7 linked regions of the Homo sapiens genome follow. The protein of the gene in region 1 purifies or fractionates together with the protein of each later gene. This does not show direct contact. Each region holds a gene or a part of one and is shown in the gene's direction. Other genes may lie near its edges.

Region 1 (3,500 bases):
ACTCTAGGAAGGCAACAGTGGAAGTAGGGAGACAAGTTTTTGGTGGCTACTGAAGACAGTCCAGGGGCTAGAGCTCATGATTGATTGGATCAGGGTGGCAATAGTTGTGGAAGATTCTGGATATATATTCCTATTGCCAAAAGGTTCCTGGTCCAAGGAATTACATTAAAGATGGAATTAAATCCAGTGGATATAATTCCTGTCCTTGCTAATCTGAAGATCCTTAGGCACATGTATTATTCTATTTTGATTCTATCTTCTGCACGTTATTTTATTTAAGGATGGAGTTAGAAAGAAATTTCAGGGAACCCTGAGAGCATTCAGTTACCTTGCCCTAATATGTCTGAAACAAGGATCTAGTAATAGAACTTTACATTTTTAATTATCCTATATATATTCTTTATTCTTAGTCTATTTTTCTGTACCAATTAATCTTAAAATTATGTGCCTGTCCTGGATTCGTAATAAGGAGAATATCCCATTTGATAGCTGGGCTTTAGGGTGATAAAATCTTAAGTGATAGAGTAGTTAGAAAAAGCAACTATTAGGAGTTCTGGTTTGAATATACCCATCCTTTAAAAGGGTAATTTCTTGTGGCGTCTGCACAATTAAATGATATTCATGTTTTTTTCTCCCGCCCGCCACCTTTTTTTTTTTTTTTTTTTTTTTTTGAGACATGATCCCACTGTGTCGCCCTGGCTGGAGTGCAGTGGCGCAATCTTGAATCACTGCAACTCCCGGGCTCAAATGATCTTCCCCAGTAGCTGGGACTGCAGGCACACACCACCATGCCCAGCTAATTTTTAAAATTTTTTTGTAGAGATGGAGATGGAGTTTCTCCATGTTGCCCAGGCTGGTTGCAAACTCCTGGGCTCAAGTGATCCTTCTGCCTCAGCCTCGCAAAGTGCTGGGATTATATGCATGAGCCACTGTGCCTGGCCCATGATTAATTTTTTTAACTGAATTTCTTCTACTATAGTTGAATGGTATTTTGTTTAATTGTGATAATAAAGTAGGAAGACATCTCAATTTTAGACTAAAATACAGTTTTATTTAACTCATACTATGAAATTCTATCATAATGCCTGTAGGATATAAATATAATTTCTGTTTTCTGACTCTGATGAGAGACAGATCTTTATTACCATTATTAATTCAGAATTTTTACTTGTACTAGGTACTTCACATGATTTCAAGTATGGTTTGATGCCTGGTCCTTCAAATGATTTCAAGTATGGATTGATACCAGGTACTTCAAATGATTTCAAGTATGGATTGATACCAGGTGCTTCAAATGATTTCAAGTATGGATTATTGCCAGAATCTTGGCCAAAACAAGAAACCTGGGAAAATGGCAAGTATTAGTCAACTAAACAAATACAGAATTAATTAAATAATTGTTAACAATTAAAAGCTTTCATGTTCTGCATTTTTTAAAAACCAAGTAGCAGTAGCTCCACATAATTGCTGTTCTCAGAGATAGAGATAAGAAGTTTTGATAGCAAGTTTTCTGTTTAATGTGTAATAAGCACTTTCTCTTTTTTTAATTCTCATAGGTGAATCATCTCTAATCATGAACAAGTTAAAATGCCCTCATTGTAGCTATGTAGCCAAATACAGACGAACACTAAAAAGGCACTTGCTCATTCACACAGGAGTGAGATCATTTAGCTGTGATATTTGTGGAAAACTGTTTACTCGAAGAGAACATGTAAAAAGACATTCCCTGGTAAGTAACTTTAAATACAGCTGATCTTTGAGATAAACTATATTTATGTCAGTGAAGTTTAAAGGGATTTAAACAGTTAATTGTGAATTTAAGGAAGATTGTCTCCTAAATTGCTTTAAACAGTTTGACTTTATGAACTGATAGTGAGCTTTTTACAGAGAAACTGGTGTATTCACTCACTATTAAATGTGTGGTTTAATTTGAGTGGTTCAAATGCATTCTATTATATATAATATCCTTATATTGGATTTTTTCCCCCTCCAATTAGGTGCATAAAAAGGATAAAAAATACAAATGTATGGTGTGTAAGAAGATCTTCATGTTAGCAGCCAGTGTTGGAATAAGACATGGATCTCGACGTTATGGTGTTTGTGTAGACTGTGCAGATAAATCACAGCCAGGAGGGCAAGAAGGTGTAGATCAGGGACAGGATACAGAATTCCCTCGGGATGAAGAATACGAGGAGAATGAAGTAGGAGAAGCTGATGAAGAGCTAGTTGATGATGGAGAAGATCAGAATGATCCCTCTCGATGGGATGAATCAGGAGAAGTTTGTATGTCTCTAGATGATTAACTGACCTACTATACTCCTCAAGGATGCTGCATTTGGACCTAATATGAATCGACAATTTGGATTGTTGAACTTGAAGGCTTGCAAAATATGGTACATGCTGGATAGTAGTTATGTTGCTGTGAAAACTGTAGGGTCAAAGCCTTATAGCAAAAAAAATTTTTTTTTATATTTGCACAGGACTATACAGCAAACAACCATGTGGTTGGATTACATGGAGTCCCCACATACTCAGTCAGTTATCAAAGTAAAATATTTTTTATTTATAGGATATACAGTAACTATTTGGGTCCTATGAAAATAGTCCTTAAAGAGCTTACATTCATGTGCTACTTTAACATGAATGGAGAAAATCCGTTTATGGAAGTACAGTGACAATTGACCCAATCACTCTGTCCATCAAACCACTCAGGCTAGTTTGTACTAGTAGAGTTTTGTTTCTATTTTTATTTTTATTAATTTTATTTTTTTTAATACAGATTTTCAGTGAGGGGCTTTTTCAACCCCATTGGTTCTATTTTCTTGTATTTTTCCATTTAATTTGCTTCATAACTTAAACCAAGTCTCTTCTAGTCTTAGGTATTATTTCTCGATTTTGTGCTGATGGGCATGTTTATAAGAACTGGAGAGGTAATTTATTGGAATGAACTAACTGACTTCCTCCATTCCCCTCTTCCTTTTTGACATGAATTTTACTACTTCACAAATGAAGAATGATGTTATGAAGTTACCGTGGCGAAGTTGACAAATACCACTAAAATGATTATGATTTAGAAGTAACTTTCTTCTGCTGCTCTAATCTGATAAATGGTTACTATATGATATTTTCTGACATGGTATTTGGTTTTGGGTATCTGTTACTTTGGCACTATTCTTGTTTGCCTCTTTATTTTTGCCAGTGTACTATACCTCAGTCCTATTTGAAAGACCTAATTGAAAGAAAAATCATAGAAATAAGTAAAATGATTTGTTTTATAATTTATCCACCATGTCCAGTTTGGTTAGCTTGTTATGCAATATAAGTGAAATATCAGGTTTTTACCCGTGTCCCTTTTATCATGAAAATTAACACAAAATGTGCATTCTCTTTTGTTTCATACTTAGCGGGATATTGATTGTTTTGAAATTATGATCAATACTTAATTTATTTTTTTCTGTCCTTGAAGTCACTACACCTTGATACAGTCTTTCTAGTAGTCA
Region 2 (3,500 bases), on another chromosome or scaffold:
GGACCAGATTCGCATCTTTGCTTTTGAAAGCACAAACCACTAGCTTCCTTTTAACTTAGAGACAGTAAAAACTTGTGTAGTGTTTGGCTAATGAGTGACAGTCTATTCAAGGTCTAGGAGGACCTGCTTGATTTCCATGCATCCATTTGTCTCAATCTCTGGCACCTACTCCCAGATCTCCTTAGGGAGGGATTCTGTTTTCAAGTTTTGTTTTGTTCTCCATCATCTACCACTTCAGCTGATACATATCTTGCCATGTGTAGTGATTATGACTCTTAATGGGCTAAGATAAAAAGGACTCAAGTCTTATAAGACATTTAGCTCAAACACCCAAGATTGGCCCAATTTCTATCAAGCTATAGGCTGTTTTTCAAGCCAAATTTATCAGCAACTAGGGAAGACAGGACTTAACGATAGGTGTAAATGCCCTGGAGAGTTGAACATCTTGTTATGGGAACTGATCTTAGCTTTAATACGATCTAGTGAAGTTCAGCCATCCTAGGAAGGATGCTGCTGGGAGGGAGGGACAGGTGTGCTGCCCTACTCCTCCAATCGAATTGCTTTCCTGTTCAGTCACATATGCTCCCCATGCTTAACTTGCCAGGGCTATTTTCTCAGTAGTGGCAAGTGGTCTGTGTCGATTTTTCATATCTAAAAAATAGCATAGTTGAATAATTAGTCATTATACTTTGTCAAATATAGAGATGTGGTTTATTAGAGGGCCTACTCGGGTAGTCCTTGCCACCCATTTATTCTGTGGGTTTGTTTGTTTTGTCCTCTTACCATAGAAACCACCATCATGGGTTCGGGTCCCATAGACCCCAAAGAACTTCTCAAGGGCCTGGACAGCTTCCTTAACCGAGATGGGGAAGTCAAAAGTGTGGATGGGATTTCCAAGATCTTCAGGTGAGTCTTTACCCCTTTTTGTATTCACTGTGAGTAGAGAATATTGTGTGTTAAAACATGGCTGCAGTTGAGGCACACTGGAATGATCCTGGAAAGGAAAGGGAAAGATAGTCAGTGCAATAGGATTAAAATGTAACAATTTTAGGATAAGGGATAGGAAAAGATGATCACTTGTTTCTGACCATAATGGAAACTGGAGATTTGGACGTCCACGGTCCCAAGGGAGTCATGCTTTGGAATGAGAGCAGGGTAGCCTGGTAACAGAATTCTAGATTGTTTTGGTTCGTGTTCCACCTACCCATAATGTTATTTTCCTTCAGGGATTCTCAGGTTTTTCAGGGGAGAGTAAATAACTAAGCCAGTCTTGAACAGACTATTAGGGACAGTTGTTGAGGGATAGCCTTATCACCTGGAGGCAGAATGGAATTCATCCTGTGTGTTACGGAGGCAGCGATGCTCTCCTCCCCAGGTCAGAGACTGCGGTGTCTCTGTTCTCCCATAAGTTTCCATGTCACACTGGATCCATCCCATCTTCCTAGAGGTATATGTGACTCCCCTTCTCTGGAGCAAAGTCCCAAGTCATTAGGAATCTCTAGGCAGTTCACAGAGAGGCGCTTTTGCTAAGAGAAGAGATACTGGCTGCTTCATTTCTAACCCTAACTCATCTTCTGCAGTTTGATGAAGGAAGCACGAAAGATGGTGAGTCGATGCACTTACTTGAACATTCTCCTGCAGACCCGTTCACCAGAAATATTGGTCAAGTAAGTGGGGATCTGGATGGTTGGAATGGGAAGGTGTAGCGAAAAGATGGGGCGGTGAGGCATGGGGTTCCTCGGTCATTGATGGGAGACTGGGATTGTAGGATGTGGTACTGTCAAAACCTAGAAAGGGCATTACTGATAGACTCTCCTGCCTGCCTGCAGATTTATTGACGTTGGCGGCTACAAACTTCTTAACAATTGGCTGACGTATTCAAAGACAACCAACAACATTCCCCTCCTCCAGCAAATTCTACTGACCCTGCAGCATCTACCGCTCACTGTAGACCATCTCAAGCAGGTACCTTTAGTCTTTAAACCCTGATTCTTCCTTTTTTGGTTTAGTCTAATGGATGAAAAACTCAAACTGACTGATGTGGCTGTAATCTTGGGCCTGTGAGGTAGAACAGCAGAAAAAAAATAGGAATTTAGAAGAAGAAGACTTGGTTTGAATTTATCTCCTTTAATAGGTGTGTGGCGGCTGGGCACGGTGGCTCACGCCTGTGATCCCAGCACTTTGAGAGGCTGAGGCGGGCGGATCATGAGGTCAGGAGACTGAGACCATCCTGGCTGACGTGGTGAAACCCCGTCTCCACTAAAAATACAAAAAATTAGCCAGGCATGGTGGCATGCGCCTGTAGTCCCAGCTAATCAGGAGGCTGAGGCTGGAGAATCGCTTGAACCCAGGAGGTGGAGGTTATTGTGAGCCGAGATCGCACCACTGCACTCCAGCCTGGGCGACAGAGTGAGACTTCGTCTCAAAAAAAAAAAAAAAAAAGGAATGTGTCAGCCAGGTGTGGTGGCTCACACCTGTAATCCCAACACTTTGGGATGCTGAGGTGGGTGGATTGCTTGAGCCCAGTAGTTCAAGACCAGCGTGGGCAAAAATGATAAAACTCTGTCTCTACAAAAAATACAAAAAATTTACCCAGATGTGGTGGTGCATGCCTGTAGTCTCAGTTATTTAGGAGGCTCAGGTGGGAGAATCATTTGAGCCTGGGAGGTCGAGGCTGCAGTGAGCCAAGACTGCGCCACTGCACTCTAGCCTGGGCAACAGAGTGAGACTCCGTCTCAAAAAATAAAAAAAAAAAAAAAAGCAGGGAGGACTGTAACTTTTGTCGTTTTTAGCTCTAAGTGGAATTATTTGCCTCCTGGCATTTACCTTTCTGCTGCTCCCATCTCTCATAGAACAACACAGCTAAACTGGTGAAGCAGCTGAGCAAGTCAAGTGAGGATGAAGGTAGGGTGCCACTTCTGCTCTCTCATGGGCTTTTCTCTATTACTTCCACTTAATTACCTTAATATCTTTTCCCATCCTTGGATTGTCCCTTCACTTTTCTCTTTCTACCTCACCTTGCTTTTTTTCCTTCTTTTAAAGAGAAAGTTCCTCTAACCTGTACCCTCTTTCCTGTTCTCAATTCCAAAGTTGTTCATTTCTCTGTTGCTGAATATAAGGTGCCATACTTTAACTGGAAGCTGATTCCTAAAATTGCTTGTTATAAAACACATACACTTAAAATTTGCTGTGGGAAATAGTATCATCCTAGCGTGTCTCATCTGTGAAACTCCTATTACTAAATGATAAATTATGAAATGAGTTTATAAGTGGAAATGTTGGCCAGAAGAGAGGTGCCATAGATCAGAGATGTTATTTGCCAAGTACAAAAGGAAAGAGTTACAAAGTATTTTTTCATATATTTAGAAACAAATTTTATTCTTGTTTTCACATCTATAAAGGAAAATAAAAAGTCTTCAGATTGTTGTAACAATTAGGTGTGTTATACATAAAGCAACTAACGTAGCTTTTTAAAAAAATGTCAGTTTTTGAGGAACTGG
Region 3 (3,500 bases), on another chromosome or scaffold:
CTCCTGCGGTCCCTCCTTCCCTGTCTCTCTCACCCCTGTTTCCACACCCTCACCTCCTACCACCCCCCTCAGCATGTTCCCTGGAAGCTGAGGGTCTCTGGGGCTCAGTCCCGGTCTCTCTCTTTCTCTCTCTCTCTCTCTGTCTCCCCGACCCTTCCCCCCAGCGTGTTCCCGAGGGAGCTGAAGGAGGTGTTTGCTTCGTGGCGGCTGCGCTGCGCAGAGCGAGGCCGGGAGGACATCGCAGACAGGCTTATCAGCGCCTCACTCTTCCTGCGCTTCCTCTGCCCAGCGATTATGTCGCCCAGTCTCTTTGGGCTTATGCAGGAGTACCCAGATGAGCAGACCTCACGAACCCTCACCCTCATTGCCAAGGTCATCCAGAACCTGGCCAACTTTTCCAAGTGAGGGAAGCTTCAGGAGTGGGCAGGGCAGGGAGTGGCAGGGCAGGGAGTGGCAGGGCTGGGGGTCGGCAAGAAGGGTCTCCTGAGTCCCCAGAGATCCTGAGATGGGGAGGCTATGATACCTTGTGTGTGTGTGTATGTGTGTGTATGTGTGTGTGTGTGTGTGTGTGTGTGTATGTGACCTTTATCTTCTGCATTCTTGGCTAGGTTTACCTCAAAGGAGGACTTTCTGGGCTTCATGAATGAGTTTCTGGAGCTGGAATGGGGTTCCATGCAGCAGTTTTTGTATGAGATCTCCAATCTGGACACGCTAACCAACAGCAGTAGCTTTGAGGGTTACATCGACTTGGGCCGAGAGCTCTCCACACTGCATGCCCTACTCTGGGAGGTGCTGCCCCAGCTCAGCAAGGTCAGCAGATCCCCTCTTTGCCCTATCCCCAGATGGCTCCAGAGGTTCCTGGAGCCTGAGAAACTACCCTTTGAAGATTTTTTTTCTCCCCTTGTTTCTCGAGGTGTCACCACTACTATCCCAACTCAGGCCCCCTCCACCTGCACCCTCAGAGGCCCTCTTAGAGCTGGGCACTGAGCCCCCAGGTAACAGCCTCACCCTTCCAGGAAGCCCTCCTGAAGCTGGGTCCACTGCCCCGGCTCCTCAACGACATCAGCACAGCTCTGAGGAACCCCAACATCCAAAGGCAGCCAAGCCGCCAGAGTGAGCGGCCCCGGCCTCAGCCTGTGGTACTGCGGGGGCCATCGGCTGAGATGCAGGGCTACATGATGCGGGACCTCAACAGGTGAGCACCCTGGGACAGCCAGGCCTGTGCCCTAGGAGCCCTTCTCCTATTCTAGATACTCCTCACTGGGCCCCACATGCATCTCTCTAGGGCTTGAAAGAAGGGAGGAAAAAGCACCAAGTTCTCAGGGGAGACGATAAGGAGACAGGTACAGTCAGTGGTAGGCTGAGAGCCCTTTACAGCCTGAGGGAGTGAGAGATTTGGAGCTCTAGGAATAGGGCTGAGGCTCCACCAACTCACGGCTTAGTTGTAAGCCTAGAGCATCCCTGCTGCAAGCTCTGATTTGCTGTCCCTCTGCCTGCCCATGCTAGTCCCCAGGCTGAGGTTCAGCCAGCATGTCATGTCAGCCATGTGTCAAAATGTTCAAACATCTCAGTAATAGCTAGTGAATAAGCACTTCCCCCAGCCCCCGACCACAACCCCACAGACCTCCCCATGATCCAGCACTTAGAGCAGTGACAGCAGAAGCCTAGCAGGGCCTGCAGCCTGCTCCAGAGTCCCAGCCTCCATTCTGATAGGTGGTGCCCGTGCTTCATTTGCTGCTCATTATTTTGATGATGGCCCTGCTTTTTCCTCTGCCCGTGTCTTCCTCCATGACACCATACCCATCCCACCATTCCCGCCTCTCCTTTCATTTGTCCACATCTCTCTCCTTCTCTGTCTGTGCTCGCCCCTCTTTCCATCTCTCTCCAGCTCCATCGACCTTCAGTCCTTCATGGCTCGAGGCCTCAACAGGTGAGGGGCTCTCCCCTCCCCCGCCCTCCTCTCCTCTCCTGTCTGTTCCCTCTCCCACTCCACTGGCCTTCGCCCTACTCCTCTCCTCTCCTCCTCCATGGACCTCATCTCCTCCATATGTGCCCAGCCCTGCCCCCATCCCTTCTCTTGCTGCCCCCATCTCCCCTCCTCTAGGCCTCACCCCCTTCCCGGAGGGGCCCTGTCCTTTCCCTTTACTCACCTGTCCCCTCCCATCCTCCCTGCCTGCCCTCTTCAGGGCTGCCACCGCTAGCTCTCAGCCCTTCCCTCTGGGTCCCACTTTTCACCCCAAGGCCTGTGCCAGACCACAGCAAGGTTCAATTGCTAGGAGCCCTGACCTTACCTTCTGCTTGTGTGCCCCCTTCCCTTCTGACAGCTCTATGGACATGGCTCGCCTCCCCTCCCCAACCAAGGAAAAGCCACCCCCACCACCGCCTGGTGGTGGTAAAGACCTGTTCTATGTAAGCCGTCCACCCCTGGCCCGTTCCTCACCAGCATACTGCACGAGCAGCTCGGACATCACAGAGCCAGAGCAGAAGATGCTGAGTGTCAACAAGAGTGTGTCCATGCTGGACTTACAGGGTGATGGGCCTGGTGGCCGCCTCAACAGCAGCAGTGTTTCGAACCTGGCGGCCGTAGGGGACCTGCTGCACTCAAGCCAGGCCTCGCTGACAGCAGCCTTGGGGCTACGGCCTGCGCCTGCCGGACGCCTCTCCCAGGGGAGTGGCTCATCCATCACGGCGGCTGGCATGCGCCTCAGCCAGATGGGTGTCACCACAGACGGTGTCCCTGCCCAGCAACTGCGAATCCCCCTCTCCTTCCAGAACCCTCTCTTCCACATGGCTGCTGATGGGCCAGGTCCCCCAGGCGGCCATGGAGGGGGCGGTGGCCATGGCCCACCTTCCTCCCATCACCACCACCACCACCATCACCACCACCGAGGTGGAGAGCCCCCTGGGGACACCTTTGCCCCATTCCATGGCTATAGCAAGAGTGAGGACCTCTCTTCCGGGGTCCCCAAGCCCCCTGCTGCCTCCATCCTTCATAGCCACAGCTACAGTGATGAGTTTGGACCCTCTGGCACTGACTTCACCCGTCGGCAGCTTTCACTCCAGGACAACCTGCAGCACATGCTGTCCCCTCCCCAGATCACCATTGGTCCCCAGAGGCCAGCCCCCTCAGGGCCTGGAGGTGGGAGCGGTGGGGGCAGCGGTGGGGGTGGCGGGGGCCAGCCGCCTCCATTGCAGAGGGGCAAGTCTCAGCAGTTGACAGTCAGCGCAGCCCAGAAACCCCGGCCATCCAGCGGGAATCTATTGCAGTCCCCAGAGCCAAGTTATGGCCCCGCCCGTCCACGGCAACAGAGCCTCAGCAAGGAGGGCAGCATTGGGGGCAGCGGGGGCAGCGGTGGCGGAGGGGGTGGGGGGCTGAAGCCCTCCATCACCAAGCAGGTAGGTGAAGGCAGGAGGAAGGCGGGCTGGGTCACAACAGGGAGGGAAGAAGGAGATGGGGGGTGGGGTTGAAACAGAGTCTGTGGCCTGAAGTTACAATCTTC
Region 4 (3,500 bases), 6.9 Mb from region 1:
GGAAGTTAGGTATGTAATTATATACAAATTATCATTCTAGATGACCAATCTAATATGGTATCTAATCTAATGGTATCTTTGATGTTCTTAAATTTGTGTTCCATAAGACATGGAGAAACTGTAATTAGAATGATCTGTTTTAAAGTAATAAATCATTTTGACTATGAATCAAATGTGTTTATTTAGATTTCTTTTGTTTCAATTGCATTAAGCATCAAGTGTCATAAATAGTCCCAGTATAATACCTTCATAATAGCTTTCTTAAAGAAATACTATAATTTTGGCATAATACTAATTTTGGTTTTGATATGAATATTAAGTCATACTTTAAGAATACATCTCAAGTGCCTATCCATTATTTAATATTTTACTTGTATTTAATAGGTTATTAAAGAAAGTGGACCACCACATATGAAAAGCTTTGTTACTCGAGTGTCAGTAGGAGAGTTCTCTGCAGAAGGAGAAGGAAATAGCAAAAAACTCTCCAAGAAGCGCGCTGCGACCACCGTCTTACAGGAGCTTAAAAAACTTCCACCTCTTCCTGTGGTGGAAAAGCCAAAACTATTTTTTAAAAAACGCCCTAAAACAATAGTAAAGGTAAGTTTATATTTGTGAACATCAGTCAGTTTTACTAAATAAATATTATAGTAGCTATAGATAAGCATTTTTCTATAAGGCAGATCCCTGAACTTATGGACTATATACAGTCCTGAAATGAGGGCAGGACATGTGACTATAAATTAATGACAATTCTATTTTGCTTTTTAAATACCTGTGCACCTGCATTTGTACATCAAATAATCATAATACCTTAGGTATTTATGTATTTCTTTGTTGTTTAAAAAGTGCTTTACCATTCATGTCACCTTTACTATAATCCCCCTCATGACCGTATAAGGTAGATGATGTTAGCCCTCATTTTACAAATAAGATTTTACAAAACGTGTTCAAAGAGTTTGCCCATTTTTATTCAGCAATCATGTCAAACCTCCTGAACCGCTCTGATCTCTAATCCAGTGTTCTTTCTGCACACATGGCTGTTGCATAGTAACTTCTTAGGATATCATGAAATGGTAACAGGATACACACAAAAAAATCATGTGACTAATACTAACAATGATAGCTACAGCAGCTGGAAATCATAAAGCAGTCTATGTGCCAGACTTTGTCCCAACACTTTGCATGCTTTAATCACATTTAATCCACATAGCAACCATATGAAGTAGATGGTGTTATTTTGTTGCCATTCGTTCAGATGTGTATACCTTGCCAAAGAAGAATATAGAGCACACAGCTTTTCAAGATATTGTGACTCTTTTATTGGGTCAGAATTTATTTACATTAATAAGAGAAGCAAGGTAAATATCAGAGGAATGAGATGAATCAGCATTTAGTACAGGACAGTGCCTGTGAATGCTTGACACGTATGACATGTCTGGAGCTAGAGTTCTGTGTTTCCAGAGAAAGCCTTAAATTGCCAGCATTTTAGTTGCTGGCTCAGCCTCACTGATTTAGCAGCCTTCTTCTGATCAGGCTATACAAATGAAGGATTACAGATAAGAAATATATTTAATCTCAATGGATTTCTTTTGATTGCACAATGGCACAATTTAGGTATTTTTACAGGTTTTATACCTTTGTACCTTTATTTAAAATACATATATACATATATACAAAAATAACTACTTAAATATTTGTTTTTAATGAATACTGACATGACTTCACTTAGAAGATGTAGTAGGTAATGCATTCCCTGAACTGGAATTATATGTTATATGTAAGGTAGACTAAAAATAAATACAAATAGATCCACTTATCATGAGTCATAGTGGTTCCAAAGAGGACTGGCACTTTCATTCATATGCTCCTCCTACACAGTCAGGAGTAGAATATAGCTATTAAGAGAATGAACTTTGGAGTCAGTTCTGAGTATGAATCCCTGTGGCCTGAGCAAGTTACCTAACTTTAAAAATATTTCTTCATTTATAAAGTGGGAATAGTAACTGACCTTGCTGTATGGGATTGTTATAAGTATTAACTGAAACAATGCACAAAATGCATTAGTAATTATTAAGTATTCATTGTTATTAATGATAATGCAAATACTATAATAAATAACACATATTAACTATTGGTATTTTGTATCTAATACTACCTATTCACATTTTATGTTTATGTGAATATATCCATGAACTGTTTTCTTAAATCTATTAATATATAAAATCTATGGCTTTTCTGTGATGGAGGAACAGCATTTTATGTTGGAATGGTGGCACAAAACTGGTCACATAACTTCTGTCTGCTCTATTAAACTAAGTTTTATCTTGATAAATTAAGAATAATAAACCAGGCAAACCAGGCTGGGCACGGTGGCTCATGCCTGTAATCCCAGCACTTTTGGGAGGCTGAGGCGGGTGGATCATTTGAGGCTAGGAGTTCGAGACCAGCATGGCCAACATGGCGAAACTTGGTCTCTACTAAAAATACAAAAATTAGTCGGTTGTGGTGGCATGCGTCTCTAATCCCAGCTACAGCTCAGGAGGCTGAGGCATGAGAATCGCTTGAACCTAGGAGGCAGAGGTTGAGGTGAGCCAAGATCACTGCCACTGCACTCCAGCCTTGGTGACAGAATGAGATTCCATCTCAAAATGATAATAATAATAATAATCATAATAATAATCATCATAATAAACTGTTAGGCTGGAAAAGATCTGTACATTTCTATAGTAGGATATAAATCTAACTCTTGTTTTAACTATAGCTATTAAAAGCAAGATTATTATTTAAATGTTATTCCCCAGAGGTGGGAGACAGGAGAAACATTTTGAATTCTCAGTTATTTGCTACTGCTTCCAGTATATAAGTAATATTATCCCAGAACTTCCCTCCTATGCATCATTCAGATCTCAGCATAAACTTGACTTTTTTAGGAACTCCTCTGGTCCTCTCCTACTCCCAGACTAGGTTAGCCTCCTGCATTTTTCCTCATATACATCACACTTGGAGTTACTTTTGCCATGTCTGTCTTATGTTAAAATAAAGCTTGTAGATACCCTCTGAAATGTAAGATTATTTTGAGAGAACAACATGTGTATAATGAGTTGGAATCTAGATAATTTTAAGTATGTTCATACCTTATAATATGTCAGTAAATGGATCAGCTTGGAATAGTATCCTGATTTTTAGCATATTCCTCACTTCCTTGTATGGCTTATACATTGAGGGTCTATAGTTTGTTACACTCAATGGAAGCAGGTAAAATATCTATGATTATTTGCCTTGGTTTTATTTAAAGTAATAAAATAATCACATTGTCTCATTTGATCACTTAATCACTCTGTGATGCAGCATTCATTTCCATCTTACAGATGAGGCCCTTTATATTTAAGAAACCTATCCAAGATCCTGTAGCAGAATCAGCTTTCAGATCCAGTTGTCACATCTGACTCCAGTGCCCATTTGATATTGGTTAATTGTGAACTTTTGGATTTTCAGAGTCA
Region 5 (3,500 bases), on another chromosome or scaffold:
GTGAACTGCCAGTTCTCTGGCTGCCTAGATACTTTATGTCTTACTGTGGGACCCATTGGTCTGCACTTACGTGGTTTGTCTTCTGGTCTTGTCTTAATTTGACTTCCTAGGGTCATTGATGAAACAATAGGCTATTTTATAGGAATGTCAAGGAATTGGTAGCTTATGATACCTTGCAGTAGAAAAGTGTGTGTTTTTGTTTTTTTTTTAATTTCTCTGAAGCAAACGGCCAGTGTTGGTTCTTCAGAATGAAGCACTTTATCCACAGCGGCGGTCCTACACTAGTGAGGATGAGGCCTGGAAATCCTTCCTGGAAAACCCTCTCACTGCAGCGACCAAAGCGATGATGAGCATCAATGGAGATGAAGACAGCGCCGCTGCGCTGGGCCTGCTCTATGACTACTACAAGGTGGGTTTGCCTGCCTTTAAAACCCTTAACAGCAGTCTCCAATGCACTTGATTCAGCAGCATAGAAACAGACATTTGCTGGTAGAATGCCATGCAAGTTGCTTCTGTAGTGACTATAAATAGTTTAATGAGTACTTTGACTTACTGTGATTCGAAGCTAAAAATCTGTGATTGTAGAATCAAAGGGTTGTTTTTAAAACATGCAAAGCGGTCAGCTGCTGTGGCTCTATCCAGAAGGTGAAGCTACCGTAAAAGAAGATGCTAGATGTGCCTTCTTGGGTTTGAGCATCTCACTGAAGGTGGTTCTTAGTGCCATGGAAAGTGGGCAGGGGTCATTTACCTTTTCACCTTTGTTCCTGGGTAGTCAGGATGATTTCCTTTCCCTAAATGATACTACAGAGCCTTTGAAATCATATTCTGTAGTCTAGGACTGTCCAGTTCCAAGATCAGGATATGTTTTGTTGCCTGTTTCTAGAGATTTGGAGTACTCTTAATTAAATATAATCTATACTCTGCATGGAATTTTACATGATTTTCATTATCTGGAAGTGACACTACTGATTTGTCTCATCATCATTGTCCTGATAACACTAGCTGCCACTATTATGCTAGACATGTTACCAGCCTGCGTGCGACTTCTCACTCAGAGGTCACAGCTAGGATGTGTGCATCTGGGGCCCTAGTCTGGTCCATGGCCGAGGCCACTGTCTTTCTAATGCAGCGTGCATACCGCTCTCCTTCTGGATTCACCTCTCCATTCTTCCTTCTGACCAGAAACACACATTTGGGGGTGGCTACGTCTTTAGGGTGCTACTTAAAACAGCAGACTGAGTTGAAGCACAGCTTTGCCACAGGGCCTTTGTCTCATTGTCACTCTGTGTGACTAACCTGTGTAATCATTGTGTTGTCATCAGTACCTGTATAAAAACAGGATCTGTTTGGGATTACCAGAAGCTTCTTAATGACAGTGTCTTCTCATGAATGTAGTGTATATTTTTTACAGTTTATTTTTGCTATCTTTTTGTTTTAAAAACTTTCAAACCTGCATAAAACTTAAAATAAGAGGATAATTAATTCCTGAATACCTTTACCCAGAATCGCCAGTTGCTAGCCATTGGCTACATTCTGGCACTGTATTCTTTCCTTAATACAAGAAATACAGAGGTGAAAGAAGCCTAGGAGATAGTTTTATTATTAAAATTAGGGTGATTAGCCTGAGCAACATGATGAGGCCCTGTCTCTACCAAAAATAAATAAATAAAAAAATACAGAAATTAGCCGGTTAGTACACATGCCTATAGTCTCAGCTACTTAGGAGGCTGAGGTGGGAGGATCACTTAAGCCTGGGAGTTGGAGGCTGCAGTGAGCTGAGATCATGCCATATCACTACACTCCAGCCTGGGTGACAGAGACAGACCCTATCTCAAAAAAAAAAAATGGGGTGATTATTTCCTAGTATGAGGCCATGCGTCTAACTAAGTTGGGGCTGAGGGATTGAGGTAAGCTCTTTTTTCTTTGAATATGAGCAGAAACTTGTGTAATAACTAATGATGCTAGAAGAAACTCTTACCAGGGAAACATAGCCATGAAGAGTTCCTTTGAAGTGGAAATTATTATATATCTGTTCTTATAGCTTGTTTTATTGACTTACTATAAATTAAGTTCCTAAAACATTAATTATGAAGTTACATATTTTTAACTGAAACTTTTGAGAATGGGAGAAACTCGTTGGTACAAGTTTTGTGCCAGAAAGGCCCGTGTGATAACACTAGGTGTACTACTCCTGCGTCTCAGAAGCATGTAAATCCTCATGTCTGTCCATGAAGGGTGACAATTTTAGTGGTACTTACTTGTCAGACTTCTTGTGATAGGTGTAAATTTATTTTCTTCTTCTTCTTCTTCTTTTTTTTTTTTTTAATAGAAGCAGAGTCTCGCTCTTGCCCACGCTGAAGTGTGGTGGTGCAGTCATAGCTCACTGCAACCTCAACCTCCTGGGGTTGACTGATTCTCCTGCCTCAGCTTCCTGAGTAACTAGGATTATAGGTCATGCCTGGCTAATTTTAAAATTTTTTGTAGAGAGGAGTCTCACTATGTTGCCCAGGCTGGTCTCAAATTCCTGGCCTCAGGTAATCTTCCTGCCTTAGCCTCCCAAAGTATTAGGATTACGGACGTGAGCCACTGTGCCTGGCCTATTTTCTTTTTCAAATAAACTGAATTATTTGTTTCAGGTCTTTGGCTGTATAAGCATCAGTCATTATTACATAATAATTTTGATAAAGCTTGAAAAGCATATTGTTAATACATGAAGCAGTATTTTTTTTTTTTTTGATACAGAGTCTCGCTCTGTCGCCCAGGCTGGAGTGCAGTGGCGCAGTCTCAACTTACTGCAGCCTCTGCCTCCTGGGTTCAAGCAATTCTCCTGCCTCAGCCTCCCGAGTAGCTAGGACTGCAGGCGTGTGCCACCATGCCCAGCTAATTTTTTGTGTTTTTAGTAGAGACGGGGTTTTAACATGTTGGCCAGGATGGTCTCGATCTCTTGACCTTGTGATCCACCCGCCTCGGCCTCCCAAAGTGCTGGGATTACAGGCGTGAGCCACCGCGCCTGGCCAGCAGTGTTTTGTCTTTAATGGTGAAAACAAGGATGCAGGAATAGAATTTTCACGCTGAAAGCCATTTTTAAGCACCTTAGCCATTTTGGAGTGCGCAATGGGGTTAAATCTCAGTTGAGTTATTTCTACAGGACACTCACTAACATTTGCCTACTTTTCACTTCCCTTGCAAAGAAAAGAACCAAAAAAGGAATAGAACACTGAGTTAGACTTGTCCTTTGGGTGATGGACGTATGAATCCCAGCGTATCTAAAGACAGTGATCATATGAAGCCCTCATTTGGATCTTAGAAGAAATGAAGGGTTAACATGGCTGTTCCTTCTGCTTTTGCATTTGATCTGAATGGAGGGTGGTAGGAAAGAGCACTGAGAAAGTTGGAAGAGCTCCGTTGTGTTTTCAGTAGCTTCTTCTCTAATGTTGTGTAGATAAACGAGTAAAACCAGGGCAGAGGTATTTCTTTTTTTCTTTTTTTTTTTTTTTTTG
Region 6 (2,325 bases), on another chromosome or scaffold:
ATTTTAAGTTAAGCACTTTACCTTTTAAATGCCACGTTAAAAATGAAATATATTCATAACAGATACTAACGAGGAAATATGGTCCTATTAAGTGGAAATAGGTTATAAGGAAACAAACAGGTTTATCGTTAGAGCAGAAATAATGTTGAAAGCACTTTTTATAAAATACTATTTTATAAAAGCTATAGAAGCTTTGAATAAATCAGTTGGGCTACAGAGAACCTCAGTGAGAGGAGAGGAAGAAACCATAGGTTTCCCCTGTTGCGAATTTCATCCCTTATGCCCAACAGATGAAGCAGAGAGAAGCTGAGAGCAAAAGCTAGAAAGCAGTTTCCACTTTGCGCTAAGGTGGAGGTGGCCAGAGGGTACAGCATGCATATCATTGCTTCATCGCTTCTGATCAGTCTCCTCCCCAAAATGATTTAATATCATCAACAACAATAAGTCTGAAACAAGCTCACACAGATATTTGGTGTAAATTATTTGGGGATTGCCAGAGGAAGAAAGTTGTAAAGGTGAAATCTATAGAAAGCAAATGAGAAATATGCAGGAAGGCTTGACAACCATTCTGTTACGCAGTTGAAGGAGATGTAATTACATGTGTTATATTGCAACCTGGTTCAAGGTGGGTTTTCTTTTTATTAAAAATTCAAGTCCTTTAGCATTTATATTTGCTGTCTGGATAAGAAAGTTCTACTTTCATATTTAAACTCATGGCTGTGATGTGGATTTCAGCTTAAAAGTATGCTTTTTCCCCAGACTCCAGAGACATGGCCAAAGTTTCATTGCCTACAAGATGGCAGCTCTCCCCAGTTTTCAGGTCAAGCACCAAGAAGGAATAAGGGGCCGGGCGCAGTGGCTCATACCTATAATCCCAGCACTTTGGGAGGCCAAGGCAGGTGGATCACCCAGGGTCAGGAGTTGGAGACCAAAATGGCGAAACCCTGTCTCGACTAAAAATACAAAAATTAGCTGGGCATGGTGGCACATGCCTGTAGTCCCAGCTACTTGGGAGGCTGAGGCAGGAGAATTGCTTGAACCCGGGAGATGGAGGTTGTAGTCAGCCGAGACTGTGCCACTGCACCCCAGCCTCGGCAACAAAGCAAGACCTTGTCTCAAAAAAAAGAAAAAAAAAAGAAAAAAGGACCTTCCAAATGTCCAAATGTCAGAAAGGCAAGCCTATGCAAAGAGTTTTTAAGAGGGCTATTAATTCCTGTTAAGTCAACTGGAATAGAGAAGGATACAGGTACTTTTCCTGTGTGTAGAACCCAAAGTTTGAAACCACCTTTGAGGCACTGCACTAAGTATTTCATAGTCAAAAAGCACTTACCTGAAAATTAAAGCTGAAGGTTTTCTTTACTGATTTGAAGGGCATCTGGGAATTTCATTTCGTAGAAACTCCACTTAAACATGGCAAGAGTTTCTCAAGATATAAAAATTCTCCCTGATTGTAACAAGTACTGAGACAGTGAACAAATCCTGTATGTCACATTTGATGACCTTAGCAATTATACAGACAGGGAAAATGTTTATCTTGATTTCTGCTACAGCAACACTGAAGCCAGAGGTGTCTGAGCTTTGGCTAATGTCACTTGATGTAGGTCAGCCCTACTGTGAGCGTCAACCCTGGTTTCTAAATGTGCTGCTGGAGGAATCCCACTTCACTTCCAGTTTAAGTGTCAGCTGAGGCCTCGCCTGATCATTTGATTCAGAGTAGCCCTAGTTCTCACAACACTATCTGAATTTTCTACATATCACATCACAGACTAATATTGTTTATACCAGTCTTGTTTCCTCCTAATAAAATATAAGTGCCATGAAAGAACAGACCTTGTCTTTTCCTAGAACAGGTCCTGACACCTCTTAGATCCTCAGTAAATCTTTGTTACATGAATGCATTTGAGCTTTCACTCTCTTGTTCTGACCTTCCCCACATTGTATTTAAAACCCAAGGGCTTCACATCAGGATCTACAGGTAAGAGAAGAATTAGGGAAGCCCAGCTGACCCTCGGATTGGATCCACAGCGATGGCACGGGGATTCACCAGATCTGTGTAGAAGAGGACCTTGCGCTCAGAGCCATCCAGCAGGGCGCTCTCTATCTTATCCAGGACACTGTCCGTCCAGTACATTGTTCTGCGGATGTGGTCTATGGCAAGTCCTTCAGGGCTTATCAGACCTGGAAATAAAGCAAAGTCAGGACTGGAGTGTTTGCAGGATATGGAGGGCAAACCTGAAGCCCTCCAACGGTCGGGTGGGCAGGGGGGTCAGCAGGGGAAAGCAAAGCCCAAGTGTCTCCAAGTCCCCAAGAACCAGGTTAATAGAG
Region 7 (3,500 bases), on another chromosome or scaffold:
TTACAGGCATGAGCCACCGCACCCGGCTGCTTTTTCTTAAGCAACATGAGTTAAATGTGTAACCAGTTTGGGGAATTTGATTATGTTCGCAAAAACTGACATTATCAAACCTTTATATATTAGTCTACATGATATTATCTAATCGAAAACTACATTATAACTGTCTAGTCAATACTGGACACATTTCAGATTTCAAGATTAGAAGCAAGGAGTTCAATCTTAAAATTTTAAAATTTACATGACTTGTTGAGTAATTCGATATCAGAAAATTTCACCTTCCATTTCAAAATTTGAACGAAGAATGGTAGTCTAAAAGATTAAAGCCAAAAGTGTTTGTTTTGTTTTGTTTTCGTTTTTTTTTGTTGTTGTTTTGAGACAGAGTCTTGCTCTTGCCCAGGCTGGAGTGCAGTGGTGCGATCTTGGCTCGCTGCAGCCTCCACCTCCCGGGTTCAAGCAGTTCTGCCACAGCCTTCCGAGTAGCTGGGACTACAGGCGCCCAACACAGCTGGCTAATTTTTGTATTTTGAGTAGAGACGGGGTTTCACCATGTTGGCCAGGCTGGTCTCAAACTCCTGACCTCAGATGATCCACCCACCTTGGCCTCCCAAAGTGCTGGGATTACAGGTGTGAGGCACTGCACCCGGCCTGAAGCCAAAAGTTTATTCATGGAATTTATAATACAGTGTGTATTTGGATGTAGAGATCCCTGTTACTGTTTTTAAACTATGGATTAAGAGTTAATCTCTTTGAGTAACAGTCTTAGCATTCTCTTTTGAACTTTTTTTTTTTTAATTTCTCAGGGAGAGTGTTATTGGGAAACCTAACTACACAGGCTGAAAAGATACATAAGATAAAAATGAAATATTTTTAAACAAACATCTTTGTAACCACCACCCAGGGCAAGACAGACATTGCCAGCATCCCAGAAGCCTCCCACCACCTATATTTTCCCATCACAACTATCACCATCTTAATTTAAGCTAGATATAAATGTTCTTCTGACATTTATAGTTTTACCATATAAGTTTACATCTCTAAATAATAGAGTTTAATTTTGCCCATTTTTAACTTTATGTAAATAGGATTGTGTTGTATATATTTTATTTTTAGCTTTTATTGTTTCATAATATTCCATCATGAATATAACACAAGTTTATTCCTTCTGCCATTGTTTTGGATATTGCATTTAGATTGTTTGCAGTTTGGGGCTATTATAAACAATGCTTTTATGAACATTTCTGTTTAAGTGCACTGGTGCATGTTTATTTCGTTTTCTTGAGATTATATACTTAGAATTTGAATTGCAAGAACATGGGGAATGTTGGTCTTTATCAGGTAATGCCAGGTAGTTTTTCAAAGTAGTTGTTTAGTGGTTTTTACTTCATTTATTAGTATGTAAGAGTTCTTGTTTCATATCCCTTACCAACAACCGTACGTGGTATCATATATTTCAATTCTAGCCAATCCTGGTGGGTATGTAGTTGTATTTAGTTTTAATCATTTCCCTCATTACTAAATGGGGCTGACCAGCTTTTCATATCTGGGTGTTTGGATTTCATTTTTCATAAAATGCCTTTGAAATCTTTTCCTTTTTTAAATCGAAACACGTCTTTTTCTAGAGTTCTGTATTCTGAATATATCTCCATTGTTGGATGTATATATTGCAAACATTTTTTCCATTTAGTAGTTTCTTTAAATTAACAGAAGTTCTTCATTTTAATGTAAACATGTTCATCAGTTTTTTATGGCTAGTGTTTCTTTTTTTAAAACATCATAGAGATACTTTGATTATCTTTAAACCTTTTTGTGCTTTGCTTTTTCACATTGACGTTTATAATGCATCTGAAATTGATTTTGTGTACAATGTGAGATATTCAGAGCTTTATATTTAGTAAGGGATTCACTTGGTTTATATTGTCCATATTATAATTTAGGGCTTGGATATTATAATTTAAATATATCTGGAACTATAAACTACTCTTGAAATTTTTGGCTATTTACATTTGATGTGGTATATAATTAGGGTAACCATATGGCCTAGTTTGCCCTGGTGGAAAGTCCTTGTTTGTGCCTGCTCTGGCATAATTATTAAAAACATCCCGGCTGGGCAGGGTGACTCAGGCCTGTAATCCCAACATTTCCAAAAGGTCAAGGCCGGGGTATTGCTTGAGCCCAGGAGTTCAAAACCAGCCTCGGCAATACAGGGAGACTCCATTTCTACAAAAAATTTTAAAAAGTGCATTAGCCAAGCATGGTGGCATGCATGTCTGTCGTCCCAGCCACTTGGGAGGCTGAGGCAGGGGGATTGCTTGAGCCCAAGAGGAGCTGTGATCATGCCACTGCACTCCAGCCTGAAACATAGAACAAGACCTTGTCTTAAAAAATAACAATGATAGCCTGTAATCCCAGCACTTCAGGAAGCTGAGGCAGGCGAATCACCTGAAGTCAGAAGCTCGAGACCAGTCTGGCCAACATGGCGAAACCCCGTCTCTACTAAAAATACAAAAATTATCTGGGCGTGCTGGTGCATGTCTGTAATCCCAGCTACTTGAGAGGCTGAGGCAGGAGAATTGCTTGAACCTGAAAGGCGGAGGTTAGAGTGAGCCAAGATCACACCACTGTACTCTAGCCTGGGCAACAGAGCGAGACTCTGTCTCAAAAAAAAAAAAAACACAAAATAATAATAATAATCTGTTTTCTCTTTTGAAAATGTTTCAGTGTGGATAAGTTATCACACCACATAATCAAAAGCCTAATTGCAGAGGTGCTGTGAAATGGTCGATGTGCCTTATTTTCTGCTAGAGATGTCACAGACTAGCTTTAGTTCTAGAAAGTGAAACAGGTAAGTTTGAGGGGCTTTGATCCTCGGAACCTAAGCATATGTCAAGAAGTCATAAAGGCAACCTAGAAAGGCTTTGATGTCAATCTGCTATGTATGTTTATAGATGATCTGTGTTGCAGTTTGTTTCTGCAGTTTGTTGCAGTTTGTAGTCTGTGTCACAGCTCTGAATTTATTTTCTTCTCAGCACTGATCATGACTTACACTTAATCTTCTTTGCTTATTTGCATATGTGTTTATTGTCTGTCTTCACCTTCCCCTTCACCTCCAGACTCTGAGCTCCTGGTATGAAAGGTTGTTTAGTTAGTGAGTAAATGGAAATGATTTAGCATTTTAGCTTATTGTTCTTGTAGAAGTATCTTGGGTATACCTCCAAATAATGCTTTTCCATGTTCACAATTGCATTTCCCTATAAAATTAAATTATCCTGCCTCACATTAAGAAATCTTGAAGAATTTCAGTGAGTAGGGATGCAAGAGGATGAAATCTAGTGACATAATTAACATTATTGGGGAGGTAAACTCTTTGTGACTCAAGCTCAATTATAATTTTCATTTAAAGTTTAAAGGAAGCCTCCATTCAGGGTGTAGGAAGAAATTACACAGTGGTGACATGTATGAATATTTTATGGAATAGTTCCAGTTGTGTTTGCACCTACGTC

The links.
Region 2: the proteins of ZBTB10 (region 1) and PPP1R10 purify together in Homo sapiens (affinity purification with mass spectrometry, with the first as the bait; one large-scale study listed by BioGRID). This does not show direct contact.
Region 3: the proteins of ZBTB10 (region 1) and SYNGAP1 purify together in Homo sapiens (co-immunoprecipitation; one large-scale study listed by IntAct). This does not show direct contact.
Region 4: the proteins of ZBTB10 (region 1) and STAU2 purify together in Homo sapiens (affinity purification with mass spectrometry, with the first as the bait; one large-scale study listed by BioGRID). This does not show direct contact.
Region 5: the proteins of ZBTB10 (region 1) and GRHL1 purify together in Homo sapiens (co-immunoprecipitation; one large-scale study listed by IntAct). This does not show direct contact.
Region 6: the proteins of ZBTB10 (region 1) and RTRAF purify together in Homo sapiens (affinity purification with mass spectrometry, with the first as the bait; one large-scale study listed by BioGRID). This does not show direct contact.
Region 7: the proteins of ZBTB10 (region 1) and LSM14A purify together in Homo sapiens (affinity purification with mass spectrometry, with the first as the bait; one large-scale study listed by BioGRID). This does not show direct contact.

The regions. Positions count from the first base shown.
Region 1 is NC_000008.11:80,517,226-80,520,725, forward strand, and holds part of ZBTB10 (zinc finger and BTB domain-containing protein 10), read left to right. Parts: intron 1-1,177; coding exon 1,178-1,354; intron 1,355-1,556; coding exon 1,557-1,729; intron 1,730-1,997; coding exon 1,998-2,303; 3' UTR 2,304-3,500. UniProt on the Homo sapiens protein: May be involved in transcriptional regulation.
Region 2 is NC_000006.12:30,607,244-30,610,743, reverse strand, and holds part of PPP1R10 (serine/threonine-protein phosphatase 1 regulatory subunit 10), read left to right. Parts: intron 1-788; 5' UTR 789-799; coding exon 800-906; intron 907-1,580; coding exon 1,581-1,667; intron 1,668-1,829; coding exon 1,830-1,965; intron 1,966-2,852; coding exon 2,853-2,904; intron 2,905-3,500.
Region 3 is NC_000006.12:33,440,565-33,444,064, forward strand, and holds part of SYNGAP1 (ras/Rap GTPase-activating protein SynGAP), read left to right. Parts: intron 1-164; coding exon 165-401; intron 402-608; coding exon 609-810; intron 811-1,016; coding exon 1,017-1,195; intron 1,196-1,888; coding exon 1,889-1,930; intron 1,931-2,324; coding exon 2,325-3,396; intron 3,397-3,500. UniProt on the Homo sapiens protein: Major constituent of the PSD essential for postsynaptic signaling. Inhibitory regulator of the Ras-cAMP pathway.
Region 4 is NC_000008.11:73,610,841-73,614,340, reverse strand, and holds part of STAU2 (double-stranded RNA-binding protein Staufen homolog 2), read left to right. Parts: intron 1-384; coding exon 385-597; intron 598-3,500. UniProt on the Homo sapiens protein: RNA-binding protein required for the microtubule-dependent transport of neuronal RNA from the cell body to the dendrite.
Region 5 is NC_000002.12:9,954,693-9,958,192, forward strand, and holds part of GRHL1 (grainyhead-like protein 1 homolog), read left to right. Parts: intron 1-222; coding exon 223-409; intron 410-3,500. UniProt on the Homo sapiens protein: Transcription factor involved in epithelial development. Binds directly to the consensus DNA sequence 5'-AACCGGTT-3'.
Region 6 is NC_000014.9:52,008,870-52,011,194, forward strand, and holds the end of RTRAF (RNA transcription, translation and transport factor protein), read left to right. Parts: 3' UTR 1-1,825; downstream 1,826-2,325. Other genes in the region: NID2 (nidogen-2), read right to left, coding at 2,007-2,178. UniProt on the Homo sapiens protein: RNA-binding protein involved in modulation of mRNA transcription by Polymerase II. Component of the tRNA-splicing ligase complex and is required for tRNA ligation.
Region 7 is NC_000019.10:34,175,504-34,179,003, forward strand, and holds part of LSM14A (protein LSM14 homolog A), read left to right. Parts: intron 1-3,500. UniProt on the Homo sapiens protein: Essential for formation of P-bodies, cytoplasmic structures that provide storage sites for translationally inactive mRNAs and protect them from degradation. Acts as a repressor of mRNA translation. May play a role in mitotic spindle assembly.